Linked DNA regions of Homo sapiens. The protein of the gene in region 2 interacts with the protein of the main gene of each other region in a biochemical or structural test. Each region holds a gene or a part of one and is shown on either strand. Other genes may lie near its edges.

Region 1 (3,752 bases), about 110 Mb from region 2:
GTCTTGGGACCCATTTATGCATTCACCCATTTACCTTCCTAAACTATTTCTGCTCTGCCTATGCAGCCATTCTCCAGCTATTCCAATTAAATATCAACTAACTGGCTTCTCTGTGAGTGAGACAAAGCCAGAAAAATTGACCCTTAGTTATTGGTATGTTAGTTTTGTAGCCTTCAGATAGCACTGAGCTATTAAGGTATGGGCTACAAGATCTGGAAGTAAGCCCCATCACTGCTACCTATGATCTTGAGCAAGTCACTCTACCCATGAGAAGCCACCTGTCGCTTCCCAAAAAAATGAAAACAGCACTTACTCCACGACAAGACTGGACAAATAAATATGCAATTGCATATAAAAGCTTTTGTAAACTGAAGGTACTTATTATCATGAATAGCTCTGCTTCCACAAATCCTGACCTAAGACACTGGGAATGCAGAGGCTTCTCTCTCATTTCAGAAGCAGGACAACAGAGAGAAAACAGAGATGATGACTCAGCTTCTCTCTCCTCTCAGTAATGGATGAGACTGATGAATTTCTTCAAGAAATATATTTGTAAATGAGATGTCTAAGTGGAGATTGCTTTACACTCACCCCTAAGTCTCAACCGAGGAGTTGTTAGTGAATATGATGGGCCAGTGGAGGGGTTGGGTTTTGTTTCCCCACTAAATATAACCAGAGGCTTATTCTTATATTTTTCTTTAACAATCGGAATAATTATCTATTTGCTTTCCTTTTCCTCCAAATACAAATTGGAAAAATAAAATTTTTATAAAGAGAAACTTGTTACATATTTCTAGATCCATTGAGGACTTCCTAGCTCTCCTAGAAAGTCTGGTCTAACTATCTTCTCTTTCCGCATTTTTATCTTTCAGAAAATGCAATTTCTCACAAAGCACCAAAAAATATTTCTCCCCCAGAGAATCACAATACAGTATTAGGAAGGAAAGTGTTCAGTAATCCCACCACTGGGTTTCAAGTAATTTCAAGACTTTAATAACACAAAAATTGAACTCACCTAAATTGATTTCTGAAATATCCTTCTGTTCACCAAAATCTGCATCATGTACTGTTAAAAGTGAGAAAAAAAATTATTATTAGTCTTGCCGAAGGAAAAAAGTTCAAAAACACTCTCTGTGCATTTGAACTAATTCTTACCATTTTCTTCAGGAAGATACTTAATCTGAAAAAAATAAATATACAGAAAATGGATAATGTATACTAGAATTAATATTTCTAAATATCCAAAAAGCAGGACTCGACTTACCGGTACAGCTGCTATGTGGGCAAAAAGCAAGGTAAAAAAGAGAATGCAAGTGGATCTAATCCAAGCCATTGCTGCAAGTGAGCTGATTTTAGCACACACCTTGTCATAAATACCGTTTAGACTTTACCCTGACGGTCGTATTAGAAACTTTGACCCTTCCATATGTACCGTAGTGCCAATAAAGGTTGTCAAAGATAACATCATTGACTCTTTCGAGGACAAACACTAAGTTTACCTTAAATGCTTAAGCTCCAAAGACTGGGGAAAAGTTTGAAAAATTAATACGGAAATGAGCATATAAGAACTAATAACATTCCTATAGGGCAGCCATAGCCATTCATATCATAAAACAGGATAGACGATCCCCTTAACAATAAAAATAAAAATAATTTATAAAATTATTATTATTTAATTCTAATAAAATATAAATTCAAATTTTATGGAAATGTTATAAAGCAATTATTGAAGGACATAAAAATACCTGACTCTCTCTCTATATGTACATATGTATGAAATATTAATAGATTGTTTTAATATTAATCTATAAATTCATTGTCATTCTAGTAAAAAATCTAACAGGGTTTTCAGTGGAACTTGCCAAGCTGACAAATGGTTCAATTCGCATGAAAGAGTAAACATTGAAGAATAGATAAGAAAATTCTGAAAAGGCTGAATAAAGAGAAAAGAATTGCCTCAAAAGAATATCAGGAGCTTTGGTAAAGTTACAGTAATTAGAGTGTAATAGTTCCAAAAATAAAGATAAAATGAATCTATAGACTGGAATAGGTAATATCCAAATAGATGCAAGCATATGCAGGGCTTTTATGTATAAGAGGAACCAAAAAGGCAAGAGGGAAACTTGGGTCTCTTTCATAATAATGTGGGAATAATTGCATTTCCATATGAGGAAATACATTAAATGTACACCTGATACCATTGACAAAAATAAATTCTAGATAGATTAAAAATTTAAATATGAAAATATAAACTTCAAAAAAGAAAATATAGGAACATATTTTTAACCTTTAGGTCAAGAAAGATTGCTTAAACATGAAAAAAACATAGAAATTACAGAGGAAAAGAATAATACATTTGACTGTATCAAAATTTAAACTTCTTTATGACAAAAACATAACATGATTAAAAGACAAGCCACAGGTGAGAGATGATATGTATACTGCATATAATTGAATAAGAATAAGTATTCAGGATATGTAAAGAATTTCTACAAATCAATAAAAAGAACAGGAGATTATCTAAGGAAAAAATGAACAAAAAATATGAGTAGCAAATTCACAAAAGACCCAGATGGCCAATAAATATGTAAAAAGATTTTTAGCCTCGTAAGTAATCAGAAAAATTATAGGTTCAAATAGCAGTAAAATACCACCTCAAGCTAAGATTGGCATAAATTAAGAAGACTGACAATATCAAGTGTCAACAAGAAGGTAAGAAAATAGGAAATCTAGTAGGACATCAATTTGATGCTATCTAATGAAGTTGAAATGTGCACAGTTCATAAGATAGAAACTTCACTTCTAGGTCTATATGCTAAAGGAACTCACACATATGTGCACAAAATTCCACATAGCATATTCATTGAAGTTTTTTTGTTATGGTAAAGAATGGGGAAAATGTGTTTATACTAAAAGAAAAGATAAATTATGGAATATATTCAGCCATGCACAGGTAAATGTTTAATAATCGGCTCTTTTAAAAAAAGTAAAAACAAACAAGCAAACAAACAAAACCAAGCCTTTATTTGTAGTGTTTGTTGATTGCCATGGTCAATTTCAAGCTACCAACACCATGTCACTGAATGCAGTGTTGGGAAGAGATGTACACAGTGGGCTCCATCTGCGCCAGCACAATACTAAATATATGCACACACCCACCTATTCTTGCCTGCACCAGATATAAGAATCTTTGGCATTAGAGCAATCTTCAAGGTCTAGAGCCTGCATCTCTCTACCTCAGACTTACTACTGGGCAGGTGGGCTAGTCCTGCTGTCAAAAAAGCATTTCCTGTCACAAAAGACTTTTAGAAGGTGAACAGTAGAGCTTCTTGAGCTGTAAAATAGGAGGCATGTCAACTGGGGGCCTGCTTCTGATGGGCAGAAGCGTTCTATGGCTGATTTTTGTTTTACCTAAGCCACTGATGGTGAGGTGATAAAAGGCCATCTTCCACCGTCTCTAACCATTACAAACCACTAATATTATTTTTTAAACGAAACAAAACAAAACAAAAAGCCAAATTTGCCCAACAGCCGCAATGACTTAAGTGAGCAACTACAATCTAGACCATTTAAAAATTGGGCAATAATCAAATTTTAAAACTGGCCAACATCGTAAGAATAATTGGCTTTAAGTATCAGTGTGGAAAACATATGAGACTTTTATTTCTTAAATGTGTTGTTTAATTTTTCTCAAATTCTGAAGCAATTATGGTAAAACTGAATATTTGGTAAAACTGAATATTTGTTAATCT
Region 2 (3,752 bases):
GTCTTTTGTATTGGGAAAAGCTACTATAGTTACTCTTTGTAAATGCTAAGTGCTTGCCTAGGCCAAATAATGATCAGCTTTACATCTTTTATGTTTAAAATTTTTCTTCTTATCATTCAGCAGTCATTTGTCTGTGACCCTCAATTAAGTTGCTTTGCTGTTTCTGCTCTTAAATAAAATTGGTTCACTAAGAATTGGGTGATGAAGAGCTAAGGATAAAAAAATTCCATATGAGAACTGTTTCAACCTCTAGTTTGTAATAATCAGGTAAAAAAGATTTCCTGGAATTAAGCCACAGGAACTCTGGCTTAAGTCAGAGCTGTCAACTGGGAAACAAATTTCCAGACATTTTGAAACTTAATTCATTTAATTTTTCTGGTAACTGGATTAGAAAATATGATTAAGCATAGCAGGATATTCTTTTACTGGATCAGTCTGACTTTGAACGAAGGAAATAGATACTACAATCTTAAAGTAGAAGAAAGAGGACTGTAAAGCCATTCTGTCTTATGAAACTTAGAAACAAAATGTAAAAATAATACACATGGCAGAAAGCCTTTAAAATAAAAGGAAAAATGGCATTTTCCTCTGTTGTTTAGGAAATTTTTCATGTGGCTGCATTTTTACCTTAAACTCTGATTGAATGTGTGCTAGACTACCTTTAGTTACAAATCCACAAATAGAAGTGAAGTATTTATCAAAGTACTATATAAATGCTTTTCAACTATTTGAAGCCACCTGTCAAGTGATTGAATCAGAAATGTTCAAAACTGGTTTGAGTATGTGTGTGTGTTGGGGATGAGGGTAGAAAACTAATTCTACATTATGCAAAGACTTATAAAAGTGATGAGGAAAATCTTTAAAAAGAAAAGACAATTAAATTCCTTGAGGTATATAGCCTGACAACAATTTATTTTTTGGATCATTTGACACAGTGTATGTAAAAGTGCATTGGGAATTGTGCCATTTTATACAAATATGAAATAGCACTACTTGTACTGCTTTGTACAACAGCGTGCATATCTTACTATCTTAGAGACTTTCTGAAACACTTATCTTGGAATTAGTTTCAACAAAGACGAAATGTAATAATAGGAAGGTGAAAATTATCTCTAGAGCTTTTAAAGTTAGGATAGATTTCAAGAAAGATTAAATCTGGAACTATATGAATAGCATAAAAATTAAAAATATTAAGAGAATTGATACTTTGTAATAAAGTATAATTATACTTTTATAAGCGTAATGAACATAAGTGTTTGTTGCTTTATGCATTTGTTTCTACACATGAAGTCTTTATTTTCTGAAGGAATCCCAATGGCCCTGGCTATAACACTACAATCATTTTCTTATTTTACAATTAATTAAAGGTTAAAACATTTCACATTGAGCTTGCTACTTTGTTTGTTTAAAGAAAAGTAAATTTCCTCTTATCTTACATTTTGAAGTTGCTCACTATAAACTTATATAAATTAGGCATAATGACAATTAAGTAAGAACTTCAAGCCCTATTCATCCCATGGCCGTCATACTGTGACGTCTTTCAGAGCACTTTGTGATTGCTCAGTCCTAAGTATAAGCCCTATAAAATGATGGGCTTTGAAATGCTGGTCAGGGTAGAGTGAGAAGCACCAGCAGGCAGTAACAGCCAACCCTTAGCCATTGCTAAGGGCAGAGAACTGGTGGAGCCTTTCTCTTACTCCCAGGACTTCAGCACCTAAGACAGCTCCAAAACAAACCAGAACAGTCAGCTCCGGGGGAGCACGACTGGGCGAGGTAAGTGAAAACTTTACCTTTCCTCTTCTTTTTCCCTCCTGCCTCTGGAACTTTTCTCACAAAATAATGAATTTTTCTCTCTTGAAAAGAATTTGATAGTGCTTTGCTTTTGCAACAGCAAAAAACAAGTTTCTCAAGTCACCTGGTAAGGATAGAAATACTTCAATTTCTCTCATATGGATAGATTTTCTGAATTCTTTTGTTTGTAAGATGCTTTACCCTGCTTGCTCTTTTACTGAATACTGATTTTTACAAATAATTCATTCAAGTAAAGTTTACTTGTATGTAGATTTTTGACTGAAAATTTCAGTGGGAACATTTGCTTTTGAAATTTTCAACTTATTTTTAAAGTGCTTTTTTTTTCCTATTTCGTATGTTGGTTAAGTGAATCTAAGATGCATTTATTTTTTCCTTAAGTTTAAATTCCATAATTTTTATAGGCAGCAAGAGAAACAGACCTTACTCCTAGGCTTTTAATCTAGAAACTAGAAATGAAATGTGTAAGTTGATTAAATGCAAGAAATGCAAGCTTTGCTTTTAATATATATTTTCCTCTTATGGAAAAATTTATTTCAATGACAACATATGATTCAGTAATATTTTGAGTATTAATATTCACTACTGAGTTAAGAAGTTCAAATCCAGGTGTAAGGAAATAAGTTTCCGTAATATCTACAATTGAAAGAGGAAAAAGTAATGTATATACAAAATCTTTTTTAAAATTATATGTATATATACACATTATATTTATACATTTGCACACACACGAGCAGAATAATTATTAAATAGATGATACTCTAGTCTTATATTAGTCAGATACTGAAATTTTAAAGCAGAAGAAAATCAATGTCTTGAAGCTGTTTCCTTCGTCAAAAAATACACTAAGCTTGAGTGGTACATCCCTGTTATGAAAAGATTGTCCCCAGGGTTATTTCCAGCACTATAGAAGTATGGCATTCAATAGATACTGGGGCCAACCATGTGCCCAGACAGCAGGTGAAAAGGATTCTAATTTTTATTCAAGCACCTGTCACTGAGAGAAATACTGATTTTTGAATGTATCATCTTGCAATTTAACTCTTTCTACAAGATGAAAATTACTCTTTACAAACTCTGCAAGAGCCATTGAAAATTACTGCTAGACAATCAGAATTACCTTGCTGGTGACATCTTTGGCTGGAAGAACTGAGGTGATTCTCTCTCTTTAGAGGCACAGAAATGGACACCAGAAATAAGGCCCAGCTCCTTGTGCTCCTGACTCTTCTCAGTGTGCTCTTCTCACAGACTTCGGCATGGCCTCTTTACAGGGCACCTTCTGCTCTCAGGTAAGTTCCCTTTCAATTCAAACATCTGAACATTCCTTCCTCATCTAAATGGGAATTTCCTATACATTTTGTTGGACAACTAAATAGTATAAATTATGTATTATGTATTTAAATTTTTCCTTGATGTGTTGAGTGAGAGGTGTTTGTCAACATCAGGTCATTCTGAGTCCTGGAATTCACTTTCAGGGCATGAGAGACACTGTCAGTTATTAGTTTTATGGGCTGAGTGGATCACATTCCCAAACATGGTGAAAGGAGGCTTTCACTTTCTTTTTATTCAAAACCATCTTTAGATAAATAATAAGCTTTTATCCATTGTTATCTCAAGTCAGTTCAATTTCTGGTGGAAAAAAGCTGTTTAGTTGCCAACCACATTTGAGTTTATTTTCAAGATTAATCAGTAAATAATCATAAGACTAGTAGTTGATTAGTGAAACATGTATAAAATCATGTTGCACAGAAATCTATCTAGGCAGAGTCAATTTGCCAATATTAAATATGGGGTAATTGATCTATTGAGATACACTCCCCCAATAGGAAAATTTTGATATACTTTGTTTGGACCATAAATCCTTAGTTTTATTGTTCTATATGTTATATTATATATTCCAAATCCATAAAGTATAACACAACTCTTATTTAAAACTTTATTAA

Evidence for each region. The genes of interacting proteins can lie anywhere in the genome.
Region 1: of the proteins of VIP (region 2) and MEP1A, one has a biochemical effect on the other in vitro, tested with the Homo sapiens proteins (one study listed by BioGRID).

The regions. Positions count from the first base shown.
Region 1 is NC_000006.12:46,790,980-46,794,731, reverse strand, and holds the start of MEP1A (meprin A subunit alpha precursor), read right to left. Parts: upstream 1,344-3,752; 5' UTR 1,334-1,343; coding exon 1,265-1,333; coding exon of another isoform or gene 1,181-1,264; coding exon 1,156-1,180; intron 1,067-1,155; coding exon 1,016-1,066; intron 1-1,015.
Region 2 is NC_000006.12:152,749,187-152,752,938, forward strand, and holds the start of VIP (VIP peptides isoform 1 preproprotein), read left to right. Parts: upstream 1-1,610; 5' UTR 1,611-1,773; intron 1,774-2,981; 5' UTR 2,982-2,991; coding exon 2,992-3,098; intron 3,099-3,752. UniProt on the Homo sapiens protein: PHM-27 and PHV-42 are two bioactive forms from proteolysis of the same precursor protein, that cause vasodilation. PHM-27 is a potent agonist of the calcitonin receptor CALCR, with similar efficacy as calcitonin.